2 separate regions of the Homo sapiens genome follow, and region 1 is linked to region 2. The links come from fine-mapping of genetic effects on gene expression. Tissue or cell type: whole blood. Region 2 holds a variant in brackets; the other region holds the start of a gene. Each region is shown on its reference strand, or each on the opposite one.

Evidence for each region. PIP is the estimated chance that this variant, and not a neighbour inherited with it, causes the effect.
Region 1: RALB starts here. The variant in region 2 is the best candidate, but not a certain one, in a credible set for the expression of RALB in whole blood (TOPMed, PIP 0.70).

Annotation. Positions count from the first base shown.
Region 1 is chr2:120,251,180-120,254,200 of GRCh38, forward strand. It overlaps RALB (RAS like proto-oncogene B), which reads left to right and starts at 1,673. Exons shown (of 5, transcript NM_002881.3): 1 at 1,673-1,801. RefSeq lists a silencer at 1,366-1,955 and an enhancer at 2,456-2,725.
Region 2 is chr7:50,327,233-50,329,732 of GRCh38, forward strand. It overlaps IKZF1 (IKAROS family zinc finger 1), which reads left to right. Exons shown (of 8, transcript NM_006060.6): 3 at 406-525. Among named protein-coding and RNA genes, the nearest start is that of IKZF1, 24 kb to the left of the region's middle. The variant A/C (reference allele first, on the strand shown) is at 1,480.

The DNA of each region.
Region 1 (3,021 bases), not on the chromosome of region 2:
GGTAGGCTGCTGCAGCTGCTCTCCTCTCTATACTTGCATTTGACAAAGGGTACCACCACAGCAGGCCCTTTCCACCAGGCTGCACGCGGTCACACTTGATACAGATGGGCTTTGGGAGATAAGGCTGTACCAGATTGGTGATCACACACTTGACTGTACATCGTGGCCTCTGGTGGCAATCACTAATGTAAGCTCACATTCCTGAGGCACTCACCAAGTTCCTAGCACTGTACTGAGAGCTCTATGTGGACTTGCATGTACATCTTCTTACCTATAGCATGGAGGTGCTGCTATTGGGCAGCTGGTGAAACTAAAGCCCACAGAAGTAGTTTCCTAATTAAGTAACTGCTAGTCACAAGGTAGAGCCCTCCTTTAATCCTATGCTTCCAGACTCCAAACCTGTGCACTTAACTGTTACTCCGTAAGAAAAGGTTTGGGTCTGATTCCTCTTCTAGGTTATAAATACTAGGGAGCTTCCTCTTTGAGAAGCCTCCTACCCCATCTCCTTACTGTACCTAGCAAAGTGTCTGTCATACGATTAGCACTCAATAAAAGTTTTAAATGTGAATGAGAATGGTAAAAACAGAATACTTAGTAGGCTAACACTAGGATATTCTTCTGATTGCACTTTTTTGTTAAGTTGGTCACTTAAGACTAAGGTAAAGCTTCTGTGCTTTTTGATATAGATGCTGATGGAGGGACTGGATCTGGTAGATACATAGCAATCTAATCATGGCCCAAAGCCTCCAATATAGTATACACATGCATCCTAACTTACAATGATCAACAATGAAAGAATTAATTACACTGTGCTAGCAGCCATGGATATCACATTGCATAAGAGATAGTTCCCTCCCTTAGAGATAAGAGGCAGACGTTTAAACTGTCAGTTGCGATGGCTTGTGACTCTCATGAGGTCTGCGTAGGGGTCAGCACGGTCACAAAACCTGTGGAGGAGGAGGTGGTTAGGAAGGAAAATCCACCGAGATGAAGCTGTACTGGATACAAAATCACACGTTCCTGGGCTTTGGCAGGGAGCTTGCCCACTGCACTTCCTGCCTCGAGGCTATGGCTGGGGTGGGATTCTGGCCCTTGTAGGCGGCCTGGGTCCAGTCTCCGCCATGCACTCACTAACTCCATTACTGCTAATGGGATGTCATCAGCGAAGCGAGTGGTGGCGGCAGGTGGAGTCCCGCCCCAAGACCCCCGGGCGGCATCCCCATCGCCGCGCTCCAGCACTCTTCGCCACCTCGTAATTTTCTTCTGTTTCTGTATGATCAGGTCTGTCCTTCGCTTTTGCTTTCCATTACTTCGTCCTAGCCCTGGCCTGAATCCCACAACTGGCGCCCCACCTTGTGCACCCGCACCCGCCCTCAATACCGGCGGGCAGCTCCTCCACTGCCGCAGGGTTACCAGCTGCGTGTCCGAGGGGCAGAGAGAGAAACAGAGGGGGACGGGGCAGGCGCGCTGGGCCCGCCCCCCCGTGCCTGGGGCAGCTTCTCATTGGTGAAACCTCCTCCCCGGCCGCCCGCTGCTTGGAAAATCAGCCTCGGATTGGCTGACAGCCCCCCGACGGGCGTGGCTTCCGAGGAGAGGGCAAGAACGGAAGCGAGGGCGCGCTCTCGAGAGGAGGGGTTGCCTAGGCGACGCCGGAGGCGCGCTCGGGGGGTGGGAAAGCGAGCCCGGCAGCTCAATGACAAATCGGTGGAGGACGGCTGGGGTCCGGCCCCGGGAGGGGGCGGGGCGCGTTTAAGAGCTGCGGGCCGGGTGCGGACGGCGGAGGCGGCGGGACTGGTCCCTGGTAAGGGCGCGGCGCCCGCGGGCCCCGGGCGGGGTGGGGCGCGGGCTGGGGAGTGGGGTACGCCGCACGCCCGCAGCCTCTTGCTCCCTCCGTGCCGGGCTGTGGCCGGGCGGCGGCAGGACATGTCGCGCCCCGAGGCCGGCGGAGGGCGACGCCCCGGCAGCGGCCCCGCTCCGCTCCGGGAGGACTCCCTGGGGGAGTCTCGGCTTCCTGGGCTGCCTGGGGCTGAGGAAGTGGGGGCGGCCTCCGCCTCTCCCTTGTAGCCGCGGTTCCTTCCCTATCCCGCAGATGGCTCTGCTTCCACTTCCTGCCGCGGGCCTCCCGCTCGGGACCGTCCACTTCCTCAGTCCTCCGGCCGCGGCTTGGGCAGGGTCAGGGCTGGGAAGTGTTGCAAAAACTTAACTGCCCTCGGAACTTGCACGCGCCGTGAACTGGGCGGTGTTCCTAAAGGGCTTCGGTTTGCTGGTTTTGTTTTGGTCCTGTCTTGCAAATGAGCATAAAGTTGTTTCTCCCCCAGCCTCCTCCCCTTTCCTTTCTGATAGGGGCCAGCGGCGAAGGGGCTTCTAAGGGGAAGCGCCTGGACTGGGCATCGCCGTCCCGGTTCTTGCCGCCTGTGGGAGTGTGAGGTTAACCGTGCTCGGTGCAGGGTTGCGGGGCGCGGAGCTTGCTGCGTCCACACTGCTTGTGTGAGCAGTGTCCTCTCTGTGCTCATTTCCAACGAGAAACGTTGGAACTTTGGTGTTCTTATCAGGTGAGTCTTCGGGAGAGAAGTGCTTGTGCCTGGCGGACTGAATGAATTGGCCGTGGAAGAGACTTGGCTGATTGCTCATCTGGGTTACCTGTGACTCATCTTCAGCCCTTGTAGAACAGTGCACTTTCTGCTCTGTCCTGGTTTCCTAACCTCATTTCTTCTGAAGTTTTGGGGATGGATGGTGGGCATGGAGTATCAGAGGGGATAGTGAATCTTTTAGAGGTGTCAATGACTGATGTTCCAAGCAGAGCCATAAGATTGTTGGATGTCAAAGCTCAGAACCGGTCAAGGCTCAGAATGCTCCTTAAACCTGGAGCAATAGAAGCACAGTATCGAAGTTCCCAGAAATGGGCCGACCATGAAAGGTAGCACTGCATATTGGGAAAAACAGGAGGGGTGAGTTTGAAGACCTGGGTTTGATGCAGGTTCTGAGAGTTTACCGGTGTTGTGATGTGGAGCACGATCTTTC
Region 2 (2,500 bases):
TTAAATAAATCCTAGTGTACCCGTTATACATGAAATTATGGAAATATGACCCTGAGCATGGAAATATGTACATGAGAATGTCTAAAAGCTAGTTCATTTTGAAAAACAAAATAATGTCACCTCATATTATTTATAGTATATAAAGATGATTTTAAGAGTGGCAGTGTCTGGGATTATAGGTGATTGTATTTCTTCCCTTTTGCACATCTATGTTCTCTCATTTGTATTGTGTGGGGAGAAGTGACTTTTTTTATAAAAAGAAAAAGGTATATGCATCCCAGCAGAGAAGCACTGGCTCCACCCAGTACCTGCCTCCTCATGCCACCCTCTCAAGCCAAAAGCCGGGGGAAGCCCAGGCACCTTGACCATGACCGCCCGAGACTCACACTTCTTCTTTCTCATCAGGGAAGGAAAGCCCCCCTGTAAGCGATACTCCAGATGAGGGCGATGAGCCCATGCCGATCCCCGAGGACCTCTCCACCACCTCGGGAGGACAGCAAAGCTCCAAGAGTGACAGAGTCGTGGGTAAGTGGGTCACCAGCGGCCTCTGTGCCTGTGAAACCTTTATCTCTTTGTATTTTTCCAAGACAGTGATGAAGGGATGCAAGTCATTTTATCCATTGTGTTCCCTCAACTGGCATATTAAAGAAATATGGCACAAAGATCAGCAGGATGGGGGTCCTCTGGTGTGTGGGAGGATGGACACTCACAGGCCAGCATGGCCGTGAGAGCCACACACCCCGCAAAATGTCCAAGTTGAGGAGCAATCCTGCCCAGGGACGCGTCTCTGTCACTGTCCTCTGTCCTCACTGCACTTGCAGGAATATCAAATGTTATGGATTGTAGATCGTGAAAATTACACACTTACGTGTTTTGGCAACAGTGCTTTTCAGTGTTTGGGGTTAGAACAAGCCACATCTGGCCATTTTATGTTATCCCTCTAATCTCTAGTTCTTAAATTTCAGATTTAACTGAAAATAGAAAGTTTCATAAATGGTAATTTTTAAATGTTAGAAAAAAATCAAAGCACACATTTACATACCTTTTCCATAAAAAAGTGTGTGTGAAACCATCTGCAACTCCACTGGTTAACTTACACATGCGACAGTTTGTGTTTGGAAAACTTCACCCACCCTCTTTATTTCAAGAAACCAAAGACGGAGAGAAGTTCAGTGAATTAACCAAGGTGAAATGACAGAGTCAGAATTGAACTGAATTTCTGACTGAAAAACTAGTTCTCGCTCCATTATACCATGTTCTAATGAGCTAATGAGTCAACAGTTCCCTGGAATACCTGTTTTCTTCTTTAAAAAGAGAAAGAGCTGTGATACTGAGAGCTACCTATTGGCATAAAAGAATATGAAGGACATACAGGTAAAATGAGGTAGACTGGATCAATGTGGGTCAGCTACATAAGCCCCCATAGCCAAGGAGGGAACATGTATGTAAAATTCTCAGGCTTATGAGAATCACAACTGT[A/C]TGTCTATAGGACATCCTAATGCAATAATGGGAAAATGTGATAACTGAATTTTATCTACATGTATAGAAAACATATTTTGGGCCGGGCATGGTGGCTCAAGCTTGTAATCCCAGCACTTTGGGAGGCCGAGGCTGGCGGATCACAAGGTCAGGAAATCGAGACCATCCTGGCTAACACGGTGAAACCCTGTCTCTACTAAAAATACAAAAAATTAGCCGGGCGTAGTGGTGGGCGCCTGTAGTCCCAGCTACTCGGGAGGCTGAGGCAGGAGAATGGCGTGAACCCGGCAGGCGGAGCTTGCAGTGAGCCGAGATTGCGCCACTGCACTCCAGCCTGGATGACAGAGCCAGACTCCATCTCAAAAAAAAAAAAAAAAAAGAAAAAGTAAAGAAAACATATTTTGTATGTTTTTTATGTGTCTTAGAAACCAAGTGGACTAGGTATAATGGTTCTTTTTTTTTTTAACTCAGCAGCACAGTTAATGGCACAAACAGATAAAGATGGTGGCTAAAGCCATTTGGTGTAGATGAATCCAGAAAACAAGTACATTTATGAATTATTTTACCCTATTGGAAAATGGCTACTATATGTGGAAAGTAGAGGGGAAGAGAAATGAACTTGTGAATTATCTACTCTATTCTACCAAAGAAAGATACATATATCATTTCAGGGTTTTCCAAAGTTGGGATGCAAAGGATCATGTTTCATTTTAATTTATGTATTTATTTTTGAGATTGTCTTCTATGTATTGCAAGTGATACTGGTTTTACCATGCACTGTACCACTACGAGGGTTCCTTTCAAAACACATTCATATAAATTAAAAAATCAGTTTAAATAAAAACATCAAGTCAATAGTAGTACATAGATATGATAAAAGTTTGCAAAAGTGGCACAGGAATAGTCATTGGGTGGTGATGTTCCCTGATTTTTTTAGTCCCTGAAGCACCCAGCGCCAAGGGTACTGTTCTTCCTGCTTAACACAGGAGCAAACAGATGCTCACACCCTGCCCAAGAACAC